3 separate regions of the Homo sapiens genome follow, and all the other regions are linked to region 1. Evidence: fine-mapped expression QTL. A gene starts in region 1. Each other region holds a variant in brackets. All regions are shown on one strand. Distances are between the middles of the regions.

Region 1 (8,183 bases):
GGCGGGCAGATCACGAGGTCAGGAGATAGAGACCATCCTGGCTAACACAGTGAAACCCCGTCTCTACTAAAAATACAAAAAATTAGCTGGGCATGGTGGTGGGCGCCTGTAGTCCCAGCTACTGGGGAGACTGAGGCAGGAGAATGGCGTGAATCCGGGAGGCGGAGCTTGCAGTGAGCTGAGATCACGCCACTGCACTCCAGCCTGGGCGACGGAGCGAGACTCCATCTCAAAAAAAAAAAAAAAAAAAGATACCAAGAGGTTTGATGTCTGGTGAGGGATCCTCTGCTTCCAAGACAGCACCCTGTTGGTGAGGGGAGGAGTGTTGAGTGCTCACCTGGCCAGAAGCCTCGTCTGCAAGGTCACTACCTCCATCCACAGGGAGGAGCCTCATGGCCTAGTCACCTCATGGTCTCACCTCCTTATACCATCACACTGACCACTAAGTTTCTTTTTTTTTTCTGAGATAGGTTCTCGCTCTGTGGCTCAGGCTGGAGTGCAGTGACGTGACCAGAGCTCGCTGCGGCCTTGATCTCCTGGGCTTAAATGATCCTCCCACCTCAGCCTCCTGAATAGCTGGGACTACAGGCACATGCCACCATGCAAAGATAATTTTTAAATTTTTTGTATAGATGGGGGTCCCATTGTTGCCCAGGCTGGTCTTGAATTCCTGGGCTCAAGCGATCCTCCTGCCTCAGCCTCCCAAAGTGCTGGGATTACTGGTGAGCTACCACACCTGGCCTTGGCCATTCAGTTTCAACATCTGAATTTTGGAAGGGACACATTCAAACCACGGCACCCCCAAATACTCTAAAAACAAGGATCACCTCCACTACACAACCTTCCCAGTGGAGAAATCAATATCAATACATTGTCCAACCCATAGACCCCACCCAAGCTTCACCAACTGTGCCCACACTTCTTTTCCCATGTCTGGGACCTCCCAGGAACATGCATTGCATGGAGTTGTTATGTCTCTTCAGTCTCATATAATCTGGAACAATTCTTAGTCTTATCCTGTCTCTTATGACAATTTATTTATTTGAGAAGGGGTTTCCCTCTGTCACTCAGGCTAGAGTGCAGTGGTGCAATCATAGCTCACTGCAGCCTTGAATTCCTGGGCTCAAGCAATACTCTTGCCTCAGCCTTAGTAGCTGGGACTACAGGCTCGTGCCACCATGCCAGGGCAATTTTTAAGATTTTTTTTTGTAAAGATGGAGTCTTACTACATTGCCCAGGCTGGTCTCGAACTCCCAGCCTCAAGTGATCCTTCTGCCTCAGTCTCCCAAAGCGTGAGCCACTGTTCCTGGCTCATGACAGTAATAAAGAAAACAGAATGGCCTTCCTTCTGGGTCTATCTGATATTCCCTAGGCTAGACTGAGGCTGTGGTTTCTGGCAGAAAAGTGTCAGGCGTGCTGCTGTGCTCTTCTCAGCACAGTGCACGGGGACTCAGTTTCAACTTTTCTCCACTGGTGACAGGTGTCTCATTACCTGGCCACGCTGGTGTCTGCTGGTGTTTCCCACCAGAAAGTCTCAATTTTCCTCTTTGTAATGGAAAAGTATGCTGAAGAAAGATGTCCATTCTCATTCCTCATCAAATCTCCACCTACCACCCTGAGCCTCCATTGATAGCTCACTCCTGCAACAACCCCACTACAGTGATTGGTAAATGGTTATTTCCATTCTCACTCCTGCAACAACCCCACTACAGTGATTGGTAAATGGTTATTTCCATTCTCATAATTCCTTCTCCATTTATGAGTTCACATTCTACTGTAAAGAAGAACCTCCCCTTCTCCACTATTATTTTCCCTGCATTCATCACTGGTTTGTTGATCTACATCAGTGTGGACTCAACTCATGCGTTTCTATTTTGCTCACTCAGTGGTAATCTGCCAATATCATTCTTTGTTTTGTTGCTCAAATTGTCCTAGATTTCGCCAGCAAGAACTCCCTCCAACTACTTTCCATGTCCTTTGATCTCCTGTCAATCTTTGAGCACTTCTTCACTTCCTTGAACAACAAAATTATTCCAGGATCATCTTGTACTTCCACTCCAGCCCTGAAATTAACCATTTCTCCAAAGAGCCCTGATTCCTTTTGTTGGAAAACCTTATTTAGAAGATAAGATCTGGGGGCTAGCTGTGATCACTGGTACTGGGGTACCATTGCATCTAGATACTCAGCAGACAGAACTAGAAACTATTTCTGTGTTTATATGCACATATACCTACACATGTGTGCACACACATACAGCTATCTTTATATCTATCTGTATATACATATTTTAAAAAAATGAGTTCATACTACCACTTCCAGTTCCAATCCAATCCCTCAGTGTTCTTTTTAGCCTTCCCTCTTCCATGTTTTTACCTTCTCCAACAGCAAGAAACCTGGCTTTCACTGTCCCCAGTATATTTAATTTGCTGGTATAACCTCCAAATTGAAGAGATGCAGAGCACGTGCTCCCACCCTCCATAACGAGACGTATTTAGAGGTGTGGGGGAGGACCCAAAAGCAGGAAGAGTTGAACCTAAGCACAAGATAGCACTTTCCTCTGAAACCAGGAAGGCTGGAACTTCGCAGCTGTGCACCGGAGCACTCGGAATGACACTCCAGAGAAAGCAGCACTTCTCCTTGTCTACAAGAAGGAAAGGATGGAGGGGTCATGAAAGGTCACAGGAGATTGAGGGGTATAATATTAGCAAAAATCTAAGAGCCGAGCTGGACCTGCAGTCAGACCAGACACCTGTAAGACTGAGCTGTGGCAGAGCCTTAGGATCTGCTTTCTGCAGGCAATTAACCACAGGGAGGGGCTGGAAACCCGGGGCTCACACAGAGGGAAGCTGAGGACACTTGGGCTGACTGGTATGCAACATGGAAACTTCTCTTCAATCTAGTTTACATCCTTGGGTCAACCACTGGATGGCACATGGCACAGGATTTTTTTTTTTTTCTTGAGACGTAGTCTTGCTCTGTCGCCCAGGCTGGAGTGCAGTGGTGCGATCTCGACTCACTGCAACCTCCGCCTCCCGGGTTCAAGTAATTCTCCTGCCTCAGCCTCCCGAGTAGCTGGGACTCCAGGTGCGCGCCGCCATGCGCGGCTAATTTTTTGTTATTTTTAGTAGAGACGGGGTTTCACCATGTTGGCCAGGATGGTCTTGATCTCCTGACCTCGTGATCTGCCCTCCTCGGCCTCCCAAAGTGCTGGGATTACAGAATTTTTTACGTGGCTTATGTTTATGCAAGTCTTTGTAGGATGTGATCCTACAATTTTCCAGTAGAGGAAAGCTGCAAAAGAAAGGCTCAGGCTCCTTTCTGTGTCAACAAAGCAATTACTTGCTTTTGTGTTGAGGCTTAGTTTTGAATGAAAGGTGGTGTTAGGAGCATTAACCGGTTGCATATTTACAATCTACATAATATAATTTGTTGCTGCAGCAAACCAGGGACTGTGAAGAGTAAGAAAAGGGAAACCACTTCCATTCCTTGCTTGGGGTTTACTGCCCTTGCCTGGAGTTGAGAGTTTAGACTCTGCAATGTTTTACATATGTGATATAATCTCCACATACATATGCACACAAAATTATGAAGACGCAGGAACGAGGGGAGACAGATTCCTATGTAAAGGTGACCCTGCTTCTTCTGGGCATTTGTTTATTCATTCAGTACCTGCCAGTGCCCTACTCTGTTACAAATTCAGTAAAAATTTCCTTGGAATTCACTGAATATGCTCAAAAACAGTCAAGTAGGATGTTCTTTGCTACTGTTTGGCTTGGAGTTTCCTTGAAAGAAACTACAGAACAAATATAATTAACTCGATTGAATTCACTGGAAAGTAAAGTGATCAATAGTTGTGTTTTTGAGTTAACTGAAAAGTGACCTCAGGAATCACAGGAAAGGCCCAAAATTAGTCGTTTGAAACAGCTATTCATAGTTGGCCACAATATTAACACCTTCGGCGAAGCTGCGTGGTGCCCGGGGTGGAGTTCCCGAGTGTCAACAGCGTCCCTTGGGCGCTTGCGGTGGTCTTTGCCCGGCACTACCAGACCCCTCAGGGAGGACTTTTGGGATTAAAGGCATCTTAAAAGCCAACTGAACTGTGTGAGAGTTGTCAAGGTCACAACGGAGTCGTTTGTGTTTAAAACCCTGACAAGCAGGGTGGGAAGGGCCCCAGAGGCAGCGTTCTCACGCCGGAATGCCCGATAACAAGACCGTCCCGAGAGACTCCGCAAAAGCCACAACCTTGCACACTGGCTAGGCAACCTCACACCGAAAAATACCGGAGGACTCCCGCCAGCGGCGCCCGTCCGACCTCCGGCGGGCGGCGCCCTCTCACCCGTCCTCCTGGCCGCAAAATGACCGCAAACAGGGACGCCGCCCTCTCATCCCACCGCCACCCCGGCTGCGCTCAGCGGCCGCGCACCCCCACGTTTGCCAGCAGCTCCCAGAGGCGGTCAGCCTTTGGGTTTGACGACGGCAACTTCCCGGGCCTCGGCGAGCGCAGCCACGCACCCGGAAGCCGCCTCGGGGCGCGACGCCGAGCCAAAACCGCCCGCGGGCTCCGAGGCCACAGGCAAGTGGGGAGGGTGCCCCGTGGGGCTCGAGGGGACGCAGGCACGCCCAGCCCACGCACCGAGCACTCTCCTTTCCCGTCCCCGGCTCCCGCCAGCCGAGACACAACGCTCGCGTGATGACGTCGTGCGCCTGCCCGGCCCACTCCAGTAGTCTCCGACCCGGCCCACGGCCCGCCCCGCGCGATGACGTCAGTATCCACCCCGCCCGCTCCCGGTGACGTGCCAGCCCCAGGCCCACGCCGCTCCCGCCCCGCGTGATGACGCCACCGTCCCGGGCGGAGGCGGGCGTGCGGCGGAGCCGCGTCCCCTCAGAGGGGCGCTGGCGCGGGGCTGAGCCGCCCGGGATCAGCGCGAGCACCCAGCCCGCCTCGGCCGGGAGGGCAGCGCGGCACTGCGGGGCGATGAGCGGCGCCCGGGGCGAGGGCCCGGAGGCGGGCGCCGGCGGGGCTGGGGGCCGCGCGGCGCCTGAGAACCCCGGGGGCGTGCTGAGCGTGGAGCTGCCCGGGCTGCTGGCGCAGCTGGCGCGGAGCTTCGCGCTGCTGCTGCCCGTGTACGCGCTGGGCTACCTGGGGCTCAGCTTCAGCTGGGTTCTCCTCGCGCTCGCGCTGCTCGCCTGGTGTCGCCGCAGCCGCGGCCTCAAGGCCCTGCGCCTGTGCCGCGCGCTGGCGCTGCTGGAAGACGAGGAGCGCGTCGTGCGCCTGGGGGTGCGCGCCTGCGACCTGCCCGCCTGGGTGAGTGCAGACCCCTGCCCGTCCCGACCCCTGACCACCAGTCCCGATCTCCCCTCGTCCAGGCAGGCACTCCCCTCCCCGCGACCTGCCGCCTGGGTGAGTGCAGACCCCAGCCCTGCCCCGGCTCCCGCCTTCGTAGTCCCCCACCCACCCCGGTCCAGGCAGGCGCTTCCCTTCCGCCTGGGCGAGTGCAGACCCCAGCCCCGGCCCCCGGGCCGGTTCCTGCGACCTGCCAACCTAGGTGAGTGCAGACCCCGCCCCGCCCCCCGGCCCCGACTCCCAGCCTGCTGGCGACCTGCCCGCTAGGGCGAGTGCAGACCCCAGCCCCGCCCCGGCCTCCGGCCCACTCCCTGCGAACCTGTCCGCCTGGGGCCGCCGCCCGCTGCTCGCCGCTCCCGCCCTAGTCCTGAGTGCTCCGTGCCCTCCCTCCGTCCAAGTCGGGCGTCCCCTTCTCCGCTTCCCCGCCCGCCCAGGCTCCGGGTCCGGGGCGCGTCTGCCCTCGTGAAGCCTCCCCTCGCCGTCCCGCGCGGCTTTCTCGGAGACCCCTCTTCACAAAGCCCGCTTCCCTCCCCCGGCCTGCAGACCCCGAGCGCCAGCGGCAGGTACCGGGCTTGGCGCCCCCTCTTCGGCCGCGGCCCTGCCCGGAGCGCGCGCTTCCTCCTGGTGCCGCCCGCGGGGTCTCCTTAGGGGCCTGAGCGGCCGGTTCTGCTCTCAGAGCGCCCAGCGCGATTCTCGTGCGCATTCCCAAAGCCCTGCCGGCCTGGAAATGCTCCGGGTGGCTTCAGCTTTTCCTTCTCTCTGTTTTTTAAAAAACGTAATGACAGCTGGTGGGGGAGAAGTTAACTTTTTCTTCTACCGGGAGAAGACGCACTCGTGTCTTGGTTGTTTCTGACGCATTTCAAGGGCAGTAAGTGTCTCTCGAAAGATGTGGAGATATTAGATAATTGAAAGATTGTTTCAGTTTTTTTGCAAGTATAATTGTGAGACTGAGCATTTTTATATGGGATCGACCTGAATCCAGTGTGAATGTGTGTGTGTGTGGCAGGAAGTTTTGGAAGAGTTGCAGCAATAACAAGAGTCATGGTATTATTTTATTTTTAACCCGGCAGTTCTCTACCTCGTATATTTATGGACTATAGACACGAAGAGTTGGCTTCAAATCTTTTTCTTGTCATTCCCTAATTCTTTCTTAGCCATGACTTGGCTTCACAGTTTCACACTGCAAGAAAGGATTTTAATGATTCTTCCATTAGGCTTAATATAAACTTTGGGGTGAAGGTGACCAGCAGTGGGTTTCGGAAGGGTCATTTTCTCTTAGAGGAGAAAAGTCCCTGTTTCCAGTCATGAGACACCTGAGAAGTAAGGCATGACACAGATGGCAAACAAGAATTAGAAAGGAGGCGTGCCCAAGACAAGAAGAAGGTAGTAGATGCTACTTTGTGACGTCATATTGCAACTGGAGTAAGAATATAATGTAAGGAGCTTGGGAATGTACAGTTCTGCCGATGCGTGGTGAGCATGAGGGAGTCATATTTGGAGAACCAAGGTAACTGGCATGGTGCAGCTTTTAGCTAGCGGCGGGAAAAACCGAGGGGTGTGTAGAAAAAGGAAGTTAAGAGGAACCGAGGTGGGGAAAACTAAGAACAGAGGAGGTGCACTTTGGAAATGGAAAAGGACTTTAAAGTGACGTTTTGTGTCTATATTACACTAAGATGCATAATACTAAAAAGTAGCTAAAAACAGAGTCCATTAGCATCCATTGCTATGTTATATTGATAACATAGCAATGTTATCAGTGCTGAAATTTGCAGGAAGTGATGATGCTGACTTTCATAGATACTTGGTTATTGGCTAATATCAAATTTGCTTGTTAAAAATCTTTGTGAAACACAGATTTTCTTTTTCTTTTCTTTTTTTTTTTTTTTTGAGACAGAGCCTCTCCCTGTTGCCCAGGCTGGAGTGCAATGGCGTGATCTCGGCTCACTACAACCTCCGCCTCCAGGGTTCAAAAGATTCTCCTGCCTCAGCCTCCCGAGTAGCTGGGATTACAGGCGTGCACCATCACGCCCAGCTAATCTTTGTATTTTTAGTAGAAACAGGGTTTCACCATGTTGGCCAGGCTGGTCTCAAACTCCTGACCTTGTGTTCCGCCTGCCTTGGCCTCCCCAAGTGCAGGGATTACAGGCGTGAGCCACCGCGCCCGGCCACACAGACTGTACAGATGAAATTGCTGCCCTATTGAAGAACTGAAATTTTTTTTTTTTTTTTTGAGACGGAATCTCGCTCTGTTGCCAGGCTGAAGTGCAGTGGCACCATCTCAACTCACTGCAACCTCCGCCTCCCGGGTTCAAGCCATTCTCCTGCCTCAGCCTCCCGAATAGCTGGGACTACAGGCGCACACCACCACACCCAGTTAATTTTTGTATTTTTAGTAGAGACTGGGTTTCACCATGTTGGCCAGGATGGTCTCGATCTCTTGACCTCGTGATCCACCCGCCTCAGCCTCCTAAAGTGCTGGGATTACAGGTGTGAGCCACTGCGCCCAGCCTGAAATTCTTTAAAAAAAAAAAAAATACAAAAGTAATTTAGCCAAAGATTCTTTTCAAGTTTTTAATCTGTGTGACTTAAACTGATGAACTGTGGTGTTCACCTCATGAAGAATTTATATTTTCTCCAGAATGTTTTACTTGTTTATTCCAAATTTGTACTTGAGCTCATAATCCCACATGTGTAAACTTCAGTGTGCCTAGGATGCTTAAGACGCTTCTTGAAGGATTCACATGAAACTTGACAGTGATTATGTTGACAGTTTTAGAGAGATTTTAAAAATATCTTTTAAATTATACTTATGTATCTATTTTGTGATATTTATTAAAA
Region 2 (8,183 bases), 110 kb after region 1:
AGACGAGATCATGCCACTGCACTCCAGCCTGGGCGACAGAGTGAGACTCCATCACCAAAAAAAAAAAAAAAATCTGGAAAATATTTGGATGTAGAAATGTCTGTGTCGTATATGGTAATGCCAATAGCTATTGGAAAATATGGAAAAAGTCATACAGCAGCAGCCTTAGAAGTGCAACAGCACAGATGACCAGCAGCCTTGCTGCCTCTGGAGGGGAAAGAAGGAGCTTATTGCTCTCCAAAAGTTCCATCCCCAGGGAATTGTCACTATTTCAACTCTCAGGCTCCCAGGAAAACTCCATCTCCAGGTTTGTTGGTCCAGAAGAATCGGTGGCGGTTGTTTAACATTGCAGCTGCCTGAGGCAGTGGTAGCAGTTGGGACAAACAAGAGGCCAACCAAACACTTTGAAAGGAGAACCTAGGGGATGAGACTGTCCACAGAGGGCTTTGTAAAACTCTGGCATTGCTGGGGTGCTAGACACATGCACATGCCGGGCTGTGCACATCCCCAGGAAAGACCTGCAAGAGTTCTCATTTCTGGCTGTGAGGTGCCTGCTGGAAGACTGAAGGCACCCAGCACATGCACAGGGCCCCTTGGCAGCAGGTGGGAGACCAACTGGTCTGAAGTATTCAAAGAAGTCCTTTCCAATCCTTAGCTGGCACGTGAGCTAACCCAGCAGAGGCTTCAGAGGCAGCATGTGACAACACAGCTTCTAGAGAGTCCAAGTATGTTACTAAACACAAAGAAACAACAGTGACAACCATCATCAACAACAAAGCCAGGAGTGGAAGAGGGATCTTGTCTACAGAGTTGCCACACTATATTATCTTTATTTTTTTTTATTTTTTTTTTAGATGAGTCTTGCACTGTTGCCAGGCTGGAGTGCAGTGGTGCCATCTTGGCTCACCACAACCTCCACCTCCTGGGTTCAAGCAATTCTTCTACCTCAGCCTCCCGAGTAGCTGGGACTACAGGCGCCCACCACCATGCCCGGCTAATTTTTGTATTTTTAGTAGAGACGGGGTTTCACCATGTTGGCCAGGCTGGAGTATATTATCTTAAATGTCCAGATTCAATGAAAAAAGGATGAGGCATGCAAAGAAACAGCAGAGTGAAGGCCACACACAGGAAAAAGGTAGTCAGATAAACCACCCCAAAGGAAGTCCTGGTGCTGGACATCATGTGGACGAAGACAAGACCCTGAATCCACTTTTAACGTGTTCACGGGAATAAGGGAATCATGTCAACAATTACAAGAAAGTATGAAAATGATGTCTCACCAAAACAGAGAAGATCAGTATAGAGAAATTACGAAAACAGTAACCAGAAAGCCTGGGGTTTAAAGAAGTGTAATGTGAAATTCACTAGGGGAGCTCACCCATGTATCTGAGCTGACAGAGGAAAGAATCAGCAAACTTGGAGGTGGCTCCATCGAGATTATCCAGTCTGAGGGACAAAAAGAATAAAGAAAAACGAACCTGACATACGTGCAGTGAGAGTTCCAGAAGGGGAGGAGGGAGAGAAGCACCAGTGAAAACACTGAAAGAAATAATAAGCAAAAACTCCCTAATTTGGAAAGAGCCACACGCAGGCACATCTTAGTTAAACTGTTTGAAAAGACGATGCAACTAGAGAAAGACTCATCGCCTCCGCAGTGCGAACTGCTGAGTTCTCATCAGAAACCCTGAAGGCAGAGCAGAGGGATGAGGGATTCAAGGTGCTCACAGAGCCTGTCAGCCAGGAATCCTGTCGGCAACAGCTGTCTACAGTGAAGGAGAAACTAAGGCATTGTCAGATTTTTTTTTTTTTTAAGAGAACTTGTTGTGAGCCAGCGTGCCCTACAAGAAATACTAAGGATAAAGTCACTTTTTTGTCTTTGCGTACATGTCAGGCCCTAAACAGAAACACCTCTCTAGAGGGTCTACGTTTCCATTTTGCAGGACCTCAAGTCTGGGAAACAGGGAGGCCCAGTGGGGTAGAGCATGGCTCTGGAGTCAGAACCCCCAGGTTCAAGCCCCACTTCCGTCCCACGGGACCTGGAGCAAGTCAAGTAACTTCTCTGCCTCCATTTCCCCCTCTGCAGAGCAGGAATCGCTGTAGTCCTTACCTCAAAGGCAGAACTGAGGATGAAGTGAGGTCATCCCTGGAAAGCACTTAGGACAGCACTGGCCCATCGCATTGGACCATCATCAGCCACCACGTCCACTCTCTGTCCTCAGCTTTGCATGATCGTCAGCCACCACGTCCACTCTCTGTCCTCGGCTTTGCACGATCATCAGCCACCATGTCCACTCTCTGTCCTCGGCTTTGCACGATCATCAGCCACCACGTCCACTCTCTGTCCTCAACTTCTATCAGAATGTGGCACCCTCCCCTCCTTGTCCACTAGGTTAGGACAACAATAGTGTTACACTTTCTCTTATACTCAAATCCCCAAATCATTAAGGCATGAACCTTCCACCAACCTAACTGTCAGAGGTGCCTCTCCCCTCTCCAACTCCAGATTCCTTCCCCACATACCTGGCTATTCAGTATCTTCTAGCATTTGCTACTCATTTGTCCAAGAACAAGGCCCTCTACTCCCCTGCCTTTTTGGTTGTTGTTGTTGTTTTTGACAGAGTCTTGCTCTGTTGCCCAGGCTGGAATGCAGTGGCATGAACACAGCTCACTGTAGCCCCAACCTTCCAGGCTCAAGTGATCCTCCTACCTCAACCTCCCTAGTAGCAGAGACTACAGACATGCACCACCACAGCTGGCTAATTTTTTAATATTTTGTAGAGATGGGGCTTTGCCACATTGCCCAGGCTGGTCTCAACTCCTGGTCCAGAGGGCTCATGTGATCTTCCCGCCTCGGCCTCCACGGTGCTGGGATTACAGGCGTGAGCCACTGTGCCTGGCTACCCCCACCTTTTTGAGGTCATGCGTCTGTTGGGCCTGTGTATCCCCAGTGAAGTCCCCCAGGGCTCCACTTGGCCTTTTGGGGCCTCCTTCATTCTCCACAGTACAATGAGGCCATGCAGTTTCTTCTTTTATTCATGGTAGCATAGGTGCAGACAGAAATGTGCACAAATCCTATTTCACTGCCTTGATGAATTTCCAAGCTGAACACACCTGTGTAACCAGCACCGTCAGAAGAAATAGCAACGTCAGAGCCCCAGGCACCCTCTTGTGCCCCTGCTGGTTCTGCCCTCACCCTACCAGGGATCACTCCGCTCCTGACGCCTCGCCCTGCAGATGTGTTTTTTCAGATTCTGAGCTTGATGGAAGTGGAAGCGTTCAGTGGGTTCTCCTGTGTCTGGCTGCTTTTATTCAACATTGTGAGAGGCAACATGGTGCCTTTTAACAAGGTTTGACTGACGACTTGGGTGTAAGTGAAGCTTAATACAGAAAGAATTGATACCAGATGAGGCCCAAATCAGGCTTCACAGCCAGCCCACCTCCAAGTCCACACCCATGACCACAGCTGCATCCGTGTCTTCGGCCTGCGAGCCCAGGCCTGTAGGCAGGAAGGACTTCTAGGCTCACAGCAGAGGCCTCACCTGCACCCAGCATGAACACTTGGGCTCCGCAGTTCACCAGTGGACGGCACCCCCGTTCAGGCCTGGCTCCTTCCATTTCCATAACCATGAGGGCACCGCAGACCAGGCTGGCGACGCCGCAGCCCCATGCCAGTGTTCACAGGCTTTTCTGCAACAGGGATAGGGACCGGCGTCTGAACCTCACTTGGATCAGACACAGCAGAGGCTGGTCTCAGTTCCCAGTCTCTCGTGAGAACCATCACACACACACCACACACATGGACAACACACAATATGCACACAACACATACCACACGTATTCATACAGATACAACACAGAACACAAACAATATATACACACCATGCATGCATAACGCACAATACACACAAAACAATACACACAACAAAATACACATCACACACATTTACATGGACAACCAAGAACACACCACACACTTGCACAACAGACAATATACACACAACATACACACAATATACAATTCACATACCACACATTCATAAAACAGCATATAACACCACACTACCACACAAATACACAAAACAATACATCATACAATATATACACAACACACAAGACATACTACACACACTCAGACAACACAACACAATACAACACAACACAAAATATACATACAAAACAATGATAACAGGACACACAACACAACACACATACAACAGTATAACACGCGACACAGTCCACACACATGCACACAGCACATGCTCACAGCTTCCTAGAGTCTAAGTCTAACCTGAGTGGGGAGCACTGGCCTGGGTTCTGGATGACGATGCTGCCTCGGGGCTAACTCAGACTTACAGAGAAGTGCATAGGATGGCTGTGGCCCACACAGACACAGTCAGGGCCTACAAAGTTCAATTCCAGTCTCTACACTGAAAAGAGACTCTACTCTGAAAGAGAGCTGTTGATGACCATTTCTCTAGTTAAACAAACTAAAGGTACGGCTCTCAGGCCCTCTGTTCCCTGCAGGCAGCCCCATCAGTGGATGGGTGCTTTGCTTCTCTGTAACCT[C/T]TCTGACAATGCTTACTATTAAACAACCTCTTTGTTTGGCTCAAGATTCACTTCCACTTGTCCATGATTCTCCAAGCTTCTTCGACCCTGAGTTGAAAGGTGAAAGCTTTTTATTTATGATTTTTTTTAAGAGATGTGATGGATATTCACAGGCATGATCATAATTCACTACAGCCTCAAGCTTCTGGGCTCAAGCGTCCTCCCATCTCAGCCTCCCAAGTAGCTGGAACTATATATATATATAGTTATATATATAGTTACATATATAGTTATATATAGTTGTATATAGTTTAGTTATATATATAGTTATATATAGTTATATAGAGTTTAGTTATACATATAGTTATATATAGTTATATATAGTTTAGTTATATATATAGTTATATATAGTTTAGTTATATATATAGTTATATATAGTTATATATAGTTTAGTTATATATAGTTATATATAGTTATATATACTTTAGTTATATATATAGTTATATATAGTTATATATATAGTTATATATAGTTATATATATAGTTATATATAGTTTAGTTATATATAGTTATATATAGTTATATATATAATTATATATAGTTATATATAGTTATATATAATTATATATAGTTATATATATAGTTATACATATAGTTATATATAGTTTAGTTATACATATAGTTATATATAGTTATATATAGTTATATATAGTTTAGTTATATATAGTTATATATAGTTTAGTTATATATAGTTATATATATAGTTATATATAGTTTAGTTATATATATAGTTATATATAGTTTAGTTATATATATAGTTATATATAGTTATATATAGTTTAGTTATATATAGTTATATATAGTTATATATACTTTAGTTATATATATAGTTATATATAGTTATATATATAGTTATATATAGTTTAGTTATATATAGTTATATATATAGTTATATATAGTTTAAGTATATATATAGTTATATATAGTTATATATATAGTTATATATAGTTTAGTTATATATAGTTATATATAGCTATATATAGTTATATATATAATTATATATAGTTATATATATAGTTATACATATATTTATATATAGTTTAGTTATACATATAGTTATATATAGTTATATATAGTTATATATAGTTTAGTTATATATAGTTATATATAGTTTAGTTATATATAGTTATATATATAGTTATATATAGTTTAGTTATATATATAGTTATATATAGTTATATATAGTTATATATAGTTTAGTTATATATAGTTATATATAGTTATATATAGTTATATATAGTTTAGTTATATATATAGTTATATACAGTTATATATAGTTTAGTTATACATATAGTTATATATAGTTATATATAGTTTAGTTATATATATAGTTATATATAGTTAAATACAGATATATATAGTTTAGTTATATATAGTTATATATAGTTAAATATAGTTATATATAGTTTAGTTATATATAGTTATATATAGTTATATATAGTTATATATAGTTTAGTTATATATAGTTATATATAGTTTTGTTTTATATATAGTTATATAGTTATATATAGTTATATATAGTTATATATAGTTTATATATAGTTATATATAGTTATATACAGTTATATATAGTTTAGTTATATATATAGTTATATATAGTTATATACAGTTATATATAGTTATATATAGTTTACTTATATATAGTAATATATAGTTATATATAGTTATATATAGTTTAGTTATATATAGTTATATATAGTTTAGTTATATATATAGTTACATATATAGTTATATATATAGTTATATATAGTTTAGTTATATATATAGTTATATATAGTTATATATAATTATATATAGTTTAGTTATATATAGTTATATATAGTTTTATATATAGTTATATATAGTTATATATATAGCTATATATAGTTTAGTTATATATATAGTTATATATAGTTTAGTTATATATAGTTATATATAGTTATATATAGTTTAGTTACATATATAGTTATATATAGTTATATATAGTTATATATATAGTTATATATATATATAGAGAGAGAGAGAGTAAATTATTTAATTCCTTCCGTAATGATTTAGAGGGACTGTCTTCAAACCAGTACAAATGTTTCATAAATAATATCTGGCCGTTTTCTAACCAATTGAGTAATTTGTTGCACAATAAGCCACCTTACAACTTTCGAGTCGATTTTAATCTATTAAATTTGAGTAGTAAAAATGTTACGTAATTAGGACACGATTAAAATGTGGTTTAAATATTTCTGTCGGGGAGAGGACGCCACACTTCTACTCAATGAAGACAAACATTTTTACGGTCCAGAGGTCTTTTATTTTATTTTATTTGAACACCTATGATGTCATGAATTCACAGGGAATAGCTTCCAGCAGCTCAGGTTCCTTCCCCTTGGTTCTCGCACCGTGAGCTTTTCTGGGTGGAGCAGGCTGCAGCTTTAGTTGAAGCAGGTACCTTTCTCTGCGGCTTCTTTCTTTTTCTGATCATTTTCCTCCACACATTTCAGGAAGCCACTTAGAGTGCTCCGTGTGCTCCATACGCACATAATTCTCTCGGCAGGAATCTTGCCCTTGTCTGTTTGCAACAGCACGCTGGAGAACGCGGTCGACTCCCAGCTTTGCCGCGGTCACACCTGCGGAGCTTCCTTTTTGAACAATATCTATTCCCTTGATGTCTACAGTATCACCTTTCTTATAGACTCGCATATACGTGGCCAAAGGAACAACTCCACGTTTTCTAAAAGGCCAGAGAACATCCATCGGGAGCCTCTCCCCTTTCCCCTCCTGTTGGTCATTTGGGCCAATGACGGAAGATGGCGGTTCCGGCCGAAAGGAAGCGTGGCTGAACTCTAGTTGTGCATTACCATGTCCATCTCTAGATGAATATTTTAACTTAAAACATAATAGCATAAGCTTCTTGGATCACTTATTATGCAATAATTCTTCCAAAAATTTGCCCAGAGATAGTGCGCTGGATGCGTCTCATCATAATTCTCTGAATATGTAAATACTAGCGTCAGTTGCTAACAAAGTATGTTTTGTAAGGCAGAACAGCTACGTAAAGGCTTTTCATTCCTTCTGCTCAGGTGTAGGAAACAGCTTTGGGGAACTGTTATTTTGTTGTTGTTTTGAGACAAGGTGTCCCTCTATCGCCCAGGTTGGAAAGCAGTGGCACAATTCCAGCTCGCTGCAGCCTCAGACTCCTGGGCTCCAGTCATCCTCCCACCTCAGCCTCCCAAGTAGTTGGGACCGCAGGTACACGCCACCATGCCTGGCTAATTTTTTTATTTTTTGTAGAGATGGGTGTTTCACTATGTGTGCAGGCTGGTCTCAAACTCCTGGGCTCAAGCAACCTCCTGTCTTGGCCTCCCAAAGTGCTGAAATTACAGGCATGTGCCACTGTGCTTGGCTAGGAAGTTTTTGTTCTCCGCTCATATTCCCTTGCTTTGAGAACGTAAACCTGTGAAGCATCTCATTGACTTTCTCAAAATATAAAATACAACCAAAATACTGTTTAGCGCTCTTGATTCATTCAGCAACATTGAAACACGCACCTACTATGTACGAGGCGGTTTGCGCGGCAGTGATGGGGAAGCTCTCTGTCTTCA
Region 3 (8,183 bases), 170 kb before region 1:
ATGCAACGGGAAACCCAAAAATGCGTGTGTCTGGCTTTGTTGCGGGGGTCTGGAAGTGAGCCTGTGACATCCCCGAGCTGTGTCTGGATGTGGCCTATCCCTAGAAGTTTGTGCCTCGTGGCTGCGCTGTCTGAAGGCCTGAGCATAACTTGCACACAGACACTGCCTCACCTCTTTCCTATAGCAGTGACCAGCATCCCGTGGCCCTGCAGGCACCTCCTAGAGTGCATCTGGCAGAGACACATCACTAGGCCAAACCAAAGCAATGGGAACCCTGTCTCCAGGTTCCTGGTTCCATGAGGGAATCAAGTTACCTCAGCAACAGTGTGTCTGCATGTATGTATGAATTTTAAACAACTACAACAAGGTGGCAAAAGCAAGCCCCCTCTGGAGGATAAAGAAAAGCTGAAATACTCCACAGCACTTACCAGACGGGGCGAGGGAGGAGCCCTGCTCCACGCGCTTCTCCGGCCACAGGGTCTGAACCTTCGGGCATGTCTGCTTAGAGACGTGGAATTCTGTCAAATGAGCCCCCCTAGAAGCTTCCGGTGAGAATCTGTCTAGAACTGTTGGGTGGGCTGTGGTTTGACTTAACCATCTGCATGTAGATAAATTACCATTTATATGTGTGAAGAAGGTATCCATCCAGTGATGATCCAACACGTGCTCATCACATACCATTAAATTTTCAAAAGTAACTGGTGTAGCTAATTATCTGTCTCAATCTGGCAGCCTCTGAAGTGTCACTTACAATTTGTGCACTCAGCTCATAAACCTGAAGTATCCGGATGCCCAGTGCTAGGTCAGATGCCCAGTGCTAGGCCAGATAGCCTCTCATCCTTCTGAAATGAAAGTTTGGAATTGTGGTGCCACAGAGAAGGGACCCTCGGGTCCGTGGTTGAGACTGAGCCTGTGGAAGCTCAGAACTTGGCGATGAGCGGCTGCAGTCACGGGAGCACAGGCACCTTGAGCAGGAGAGACCTAGGGACCCCTTTGTGCAGCCCCTCCTCACACGGGGAGACGGGCAGCCCTGGAGGTCGGGGGTTGGGGCTGAGGCCACCCACACACATGGGCTCTCCTACCACCTTCTCCTCCTGATTCAGGACTGAGGAATCCAGGAACCCTGGGGAGCTCACAGGCACCAGGGACTGAGACGCTGCAAGGGCATCAGCCATCGACCATTGGACAGCCACCGCAGTGAGCAAACCCCAAAGTCTCGTGCTAAGAAGAGACTTCATTTGGAGAAGTGAATTCTGACAATACTCCACAAACAAAGTTAGGACAGTTGTTCAGGACAGCAGCAGGGAGGCATCGAGTGGAAGTGAGGAGGAACCGGCCTTTGTGGAGCTCCAAGCTGCATAAAGTCTCCCAAATGCAAAGTCTCGCTCCAGTCAGCAAAGTTCAGAGCAGCTCTCTCCAGCATCTTCAGCCACTGCCAGGCAGGCCGGCTCTCAGCACGGGTGGTAAACTTTCTCATTTTCCTCATGCCAAAAATACATCATTTCCAAAATAGAAAAATGATATTGTTCAGAGGTGAGGCAGGTGCGTTAGGAAAGAACAAAAACAGGCCTTATTGGATATGACAAGAAGTGCGGCCCCTTTCAGAAGCAAACTAGAGAACCTGAGCCAGGAAGGACGTTGCATTTGCTGAGTGGCCGAAAGCTGTCAGGGGTCGGGGCATGCAGAAGACGTCCTGTTATTCACTTCTCAGAACAGACCTGTGAGTAAAGAACCACATTTCATAGATTAGGAAACAGCCCCGGAGAGCCTCGGTGACGTGCACGAGGTCCCCAGCTCCGCGGCGGGTGAGCCAGGCTCCAAGCACCGGCTTTCCTGGCTGCACTTCCTGGAGGGACAAATTTGGGGATGAGAAGGAAATGAGGGCCTGGCGGGGTCTCTAGGGTTTTCATTTTGTGTCTTCACATAGGTGGCGAATTTGAGAAACTGTAATGGACGATTTTACTCTGATGAGCTCTAGAGGGGGTTGCTGAGAAGCGAGGCCTGCGTTTTCCTCCTGACGAGGTCTGGGCGGGCAGTTGTCTCCTACCTTTTGTACTAATTCACCTGGTGACACTGTCAAAGGAGAGAAAACCACAGGTTAGCAATTCCCACTATATTCATTCCAAACACAGCCCATCGTAATCTAAAAAGCCATCAGGGCCATCGCAGGGCTCCATGTTTCCCTGGGGATGTTACTTCCTGCACACTGACCAGCAGATGATACTGACAACACTTTGCAGCCTCAACCCGTGATAACGGGAAAAAGATAAAATAAAGAGGCTGGACATGGTGGCTCACACCTGTAATCCCAGCACTTTGGGAGGCCGAGGTGGGAGGATTGCTTGAGCCTAGAGGTTTGAGACCAGCCTGAGCAACAGAACAAGACCCTAGCTCTTTTAAAATAACTAAAAGAGTGTAATTATATTGCTTGTAACACAAAGGATAAATGCTTGAGGGGACGGATGCCCCATTGTCCATGATGTGATCAGCACGCATTGCATGCCTGTATCAAAGCATCTCATGTACCCCATAAATATATATGCCTACTATGTACCCACAAAATTTAAAAATAAAACATTTTTAAAGAGAGAAAAGAAAACCCACAGGGGGCAGGCACAGATTCTGGCTGCCTCTGGCGCATCCACATGGATGTTGGCATTTCATCCTCTTCTCAGAGAAAGCAGTTGGTCCCACCTCCACCCGCTGTCTGCGGAGGGGTTTGGACTCTCAGCATCTTGGCTATGCTGGCACTCTTCCCTGCTCAGGGAGCCAGCTGTTCCTGGACCCCTGCTAAGAAGACCTAACCGTGGATGGCGTCATGATCGCCAGGCCGTCCCCCGTTCTTTCACCCTCTCGGGACCTGGAATTCCATCTTGCTTCCCTATTGTGTCTGTCCACGGGGCCAGTCACAGGGCAAGTACTCAACACGTATTTGTCAAATGAAGGAATACATTGTACGAAGGAAAAATCGGAAAATGCCACCTCTGAAGATTGGAAATCAGAACTAACAAGAATCCAGGTGAGACATTGAGCTCAGCAGGAGGTTTCCCAGCAGTGTGTTCTCTGTGAAAATGTGACTCACAAGGCTGCCGGGTGGGGAGCGGAGGGGCTCCGAAATATCATCTGGGAATGTGAAATGATCAGTAACATTAGCAACGATCCGCTCAAGACTGAGCCAGGACAACAAAAAGTTTTGGTGGCTGATGAGGGTCAGTCAGGAGCGCTGGGTAGAATGGAGCTAGCCACCCGCTGGTTTCTGGCATTGGACAGAAACGCTAAGCCAGGGGTTCTCCTCACAGGCCCAGGGGGAGGAACGAGCACGGGGCGGTTTGAGGAGGGAAGATGGGGCGGAGCCCCAGGGGCAGCCTCGCGCATTGGGTCCGGGTAGTGTGATCCCAGAGCCTGCGTCTTAGCACTGTGCGGCCTCGCCCTTCTTTTTCTTCCACCTGTGCGTGGAAATAGAGCACGAACCCAGGAATGCAGACACCAAGTCTCTCCACCTCGAGACGCGCATAGCACACAGAGCTGCAGAGGCCACGCAGATAAACCACCAGCACTCCAGACTGGGCAGGAGCCGCTGTCAGGACAGAGGACACCTATCCACACCCGCCTGGCCTCAGAAGATCCTGGGTCAAAGAATAATTCTCTTTTCATGTATATGTGTTGAAAGAATTTCAGACTAGCAAGCAAGCCGTTTTGACTGTTTCTTAAGATACGTAGGGAGTTTGTTCTTTCTTTATTAGCAGAAAGCCACGTTTTAAGGATTAAATTTTTTCCATAAGAACGTAAGGAAAATGTGGTGAAACAAACACCTTCTGTTGGTCAGGGAAACACTGGGTACCTTCAACGTGAGGGGCTCCTGAAGACCTCCTGAGAACCACACAATGACCCAAGACAGGACCTCAGCTGCCTCTTGAAGGCAGAGGGGAGGCTGCACATTTTACAGGTGATCTGGACGTTGTTAGATGCTACAAATAAGAGCCAAGGAAAAGATGTTAAGCGTCTGCGTGAGTCAGGAAAACCTGGAGCGTGAGTGGAATCACTGCTTCCTGACTCGTTCCCTCGCCATAGGAAATGGCCCTGGGCAGAAAACAAGCCCCTGAGGAGGGGGGAGCGTGGACGCACGTGGGGAGTGTGGAGGGGGGTCCCCACTGAGGAGAGGGGAGCGTGGATGAAGGTGGGGAGTGTGGAGGGGGGTCCACACTGAGGAGAGGGGAGCGTGGATGAAGGTGGGGAGTGTGGAGGGGGGTCCCCACTGAGGAGAGGGGAGCGTGGATGAAGGTGGGGAGTGTGGAGGGGGGTCCCCACTGAGGAGAGGGGAGCGTGGATGAAGATGGGGAGTGTGGGGGGGGGTCCACACTTAGGAGAGGGGAGCGTGGCACACGTGGGGGTGTGGAGGGGGGTCCCACTGAGGAGAGGGGAGCGTGGATGAAGGTGGGGAGTGTGGAGGGGGGTCCACACTGAGGAGAGGGGAGCATGGATGAAGGTGGGGAGTGTGGAGGGGGGTCCCACTGAGGAGAGGGGAGCGTGGATGAAGGTGGGGAGTGTGGAGGGGGGTCC[C/A]CACTGAGGAGAGGGGAGCGTGGACGCACGTGGGGGGTGTGGAGGGGGGTCCCCACTGAGGAGAGGGGAGCGTGGATGAAGGTGGGGAGTGTGGAGGGGGGTCCCCACTGAGGAGAGGGGAGCGTGGACCACGTGGGGGGTGTGGAGGGGGGTCCCACTGAGGAGAGGGGAGCGTGGATGAAGGTGGGGAGTGTGGAGGGGGGTCCCACTGAGGAGAGGGGAGCGTGGATGAAGGTGGGGAGTGTGGAGGGGGGTCCCACTGAGGAGAGGGGAGCGTGGATGAAGATGGGGGTGTGGAGGGGGGTCCCACTGAGGAGAGGGGAGCGTGGACGCACGTGGGGGGTGTGGAGGGGGGTCCACACTGAGGAGAGGGGAGCGTGGATGAAGATGGGGGTGTGGAGGGGGGTCCCACTGAGGAGAGGGGAGCGTGGACCACGTGGGGGTGTGGAGGGGGGTCCCCACTGAGGAGAGGGGAGCGTGGATGAAGGTGGGGAGTGTGGAGGGGGGGTCCCTCTGAGGAGAGGGGAGCGTGGACGCAGGTCGGGGGTGTGGAGGGGGCCCCCCACACTGGGATTTCCATCCGAAATCCACATTCCAAGCTTCATCCACCAGCCTTCGCACTCCTCCGGAGGTCCCCAAATCCAAGTCACCAGAGGCTGATACGCAGAAGCTAGACCGTGGGTGCGCAGCTGGCGGCGAGGGTGAGCAGAGCCCTGTCTTCTGGTCAGAGCTAACCCCAGGAAGGCCGAGGGGCATGGGCCGAGGACATGTGCGTGGGACCCCCAGCGGAGGGGACCGCCGAGGGACGGCCTCTCTTCTGTGGACTGTGTAAGGCGCCGCGTGTCCCTCCTTTCTCTAAGCTTAACTGCTGCAAAGCCTGCCCCTTAGCCCTCTGCCCGATGAGCCTTCCTGGCAGATGGTGGCATATTCACCCTTCATCACGGTGCAGTTACATTCGTGCCGAGGGGCGTTTTGTCTGTAAGGTCCCTTGCCTATTTCTGCCCTGATTCCCACTGAGACGGGTTTCCAGTTAAATCTCAGAGGGCCAGCAAATCCCCTCGCGGGGACGCTTTGTCCCAGTGACCCAAAAGTCAACACTTGGGAGGCGTGTGCTGTGGGAGACAAAGGGGCACAAAGCGGCAGGAGCCCCAGGAATCGCGGACGGAAGCGACTGTGAAAGACCCGCGGGGGCTGCCCAGGGGAAGAAGGAAACGGGTCCCAGGACCCGCTCCAGAAGGCGCCTGCGGCAGGGGCTCCCCGGAGCGCGTGGGAACCCGAGGAGGCTGGGACGCGCCCGGGGGCAGGGACGGGCGTTTGCGAGGCTGCGAGGCTGCGAGTGAAGCGCCGGGCTCCGGAAAGGTGTTGCGAGTCGAACAGTGGATCCCAGGGTAAAAAGCGAAGCTGTAAATATGCCCAGGACCGATCCAGGGAGCTGCTGCTTCCACCAGCCACGGAGTCTGGGCTTTATGCTGAGAACCGTGGGGGGTTCGAGGCGAGGAGAGTCACAGAATCGAAGGCTGCCGCGCGGTCCGAACGGCGGCCCAGGCTCAGCCACGCGGTGAGAGGCCGCGGGGTGTGAAGAGGCTGGGCCGGCAGGTCCTGGCGGGTGAGGGGGACGGGAAGCGGCCGAGGATGGGTCCTTCGCTTGGATTCGGACGGTGGTGCTGGGAGCGTCATCCACCATCCTCGGAGCAAGAGCCCAACACCGGGGAGGACCCAGGCTCTTCCTGGACCCGCTGAGCTTGGGCAGCCTGGGCGGCCCTCAGTGAAATTCTCCAGCAGGTGATGGAGACTCTAGACCTGGAACTTGGGAGAGCCAAGGCGGTGGGAGCAGCCTGCATCCAACAAAGGAGGGAGACCCCAGGGGCCTGTGCAAGCTACGACCACCGGTGCAACCCCTCTGACAAGCAATGTGAGGCCCTGTCCTCCCCCGACCCTGCTCTGAAAACGGGGCTGCACTTCTTATCCGCTGGGGACACAGGCCATCATGGAACCCGCCCTGGAAGCGGAGAAGCAGGGGAGCCGCCTGGCCCCATATTTCTCACACCCAGTCCCTCTGGGGTCAAATCCTAATGGACGCGACCGGCCAGGAGTCCCCCAGAGCCACCCCCGCAGCCCTGGCTGTCTCAGCCGCCCACAGGGCTCAAGTGGACAATGCCAGAGGCAGCAAAGTCCCCATGAAGCAAAGCCAGGTGTGAGTGGCCTGCTGGACCCCACCGGGCTGGAGGACAGAAGGTGCCCCAAGGAAGCCAGGCCAGGCCCGCGATGGCTCCGGGCTGCCTCACCTTATCCAAGCCCCAGAAAAAAGACTGACCAGGATGAGTCTCGTCATTGGGATGAAACTTCACCACTAGAAATGTGTTTTTCAAATGGAATATCCTTTAAAGTGCAGACACCCTCGGCATCTGCAGCAAAATAAGTTTTATTACATTTCAGTATCTTCACCTAAAAACATTTTAGGGGGACACGTCGGGAAATATGGGGAGGCGAGGGTCGCGGGGGGCCCGTCAGGAAAGGGGGAAGCGAGGGCCCTACGAGACACACCAGGGTCTGTCTGACACAGAGGAAATCACATTTTTGCCAAGAGTCAGCCCAAGGCCAGGTTCTCAACTCCAGCACTCGGGCTGAAGCCTCGCGGCCGTGACAATCCCTCAGCAAGTGATGCTCCTGGGACTGAGGATGGGAGGACGGGATGTGCTTTCAGGTGAGGCTGGGACAGGTGGTCAGCAGCAGGGGAATAGCCGAGGAGGACGTGGGATCAGAACGTGGACCAGGGAAGCCTTCTGCGTGGTGGGGTCCGCCACGGCCTCCCGCTATGACTTCTTGCAGGAAGAAATGCCTCAACACCTCGCTTTGTAGTAAGTGACCCTGGGCCACCTGGTCCTTTCTGTTCACTCTCCCCAGCAAGCCCTGAAATGTGGCGCCACCGGCAGCTTACCTTTGTCTACTTTGGCGTGGTGTGGAAAACCGATGCCAGAGCTTTAACCAAGCCTTACTCCAGAGCACGTGTCCCGCCAAGGCCTCTTCCCGCACCTGCTGCGGTGTTGGCACTGGCCCCCGAGGGCAGGAGGAAGGAACCATCACGTTGCAGCTCCAGCTCCAGCCCTGCTGTTGTTCGTGTTTTTCCATCTCCCAAAAACCTCCAGGGAAATGTGACATCATAACAAACTGTAATTGGCATAACAAGTAATGCCCCCATCAATAATAAATAAAATGATTTCTTTTAATCCTAACATGCTTTTTGACTTTCCGTATTTTGCATGTTTATTTTTAACTTTTAGGTTCAGTGGTGCATGTGCAGGTTTGTTACGTAAATTGCGTGTCACAGGGTTTGCTGTACAGACTGTTTTGTCACCCAGGTGATAGGCATAGCACCAGGTAAGTGGTTTCTCGGTCCTTGCTCTCCTCCCGCCTCCACCTGAAGTCATGCCTGTGTCTGTTAGTCCTTCTTTGTGTCCATGTGTTCTCAATGTTTAGCTCCCACTGTAAGTGAGAACACGCGGTATTTGGTTTTCTGTTCCTGAATTAGTTTGCTGAGGATAATGGGCTCTAGCTCCATCCATGTTGCTGCAAAGGACGTGATCTTGTTCTTTTTTATGGCTGCATAGTATTCCATGGTGTAT

Evidence for each region. PIP is the estimated chance that this variant, and not a neighbour inherited with it, causes the effect.
Region 2: its variant is fine-mapped to the expression of ESYT2 in lymphoblastoid cells (TwinsUK, PIP 0.95).
Region 3: its variant is fine-mapped to the expression of ESYT2 in whole blood (INTERVAL, PIP above 0.99).

What each region holds. Positions count from the first base shown.
Region 1 is chr7:158,826,212-158,834,394 of GRCh38, reverse strand. It overlaps ESYT2 (extended synaptotagmin 2), which reads left to right and starts at 4,886. Exons shown (of 23, transcript NM_001367773.1): 1 at 4,886-5,306. The coding sequence starts at 4,977. RefSeq lists enhancers at 3,923-4,032, 6,043-6,112 and silencers at 4,343-5,072, 5,163-5,262, 5,313-5,502, 5,593-5,642, 5,723-5,922.
Region 2 is chr7:158,718,900-158,727,082 of GRCh38, reverse strand. It overlaps the pseudogene RPL21P76. Among named protein-coding and RNA genes, the nearest start is that of NCAPG2, 18 kb to the right of the region's middle. The variant C/T (reference allele first, on the strand shown) is at 4,567.
Region 3 is chr7:158,994,862-159,003,044 of GRCh38, reverse strand. No RefSeq gene overlaps it. Among named protein-coding and RNA genes, the nearest start is that of LINC00689, 9.4 kb to the left of the region's middle. The variant C/A (reference allele first, on the strand shown) is at 4,561.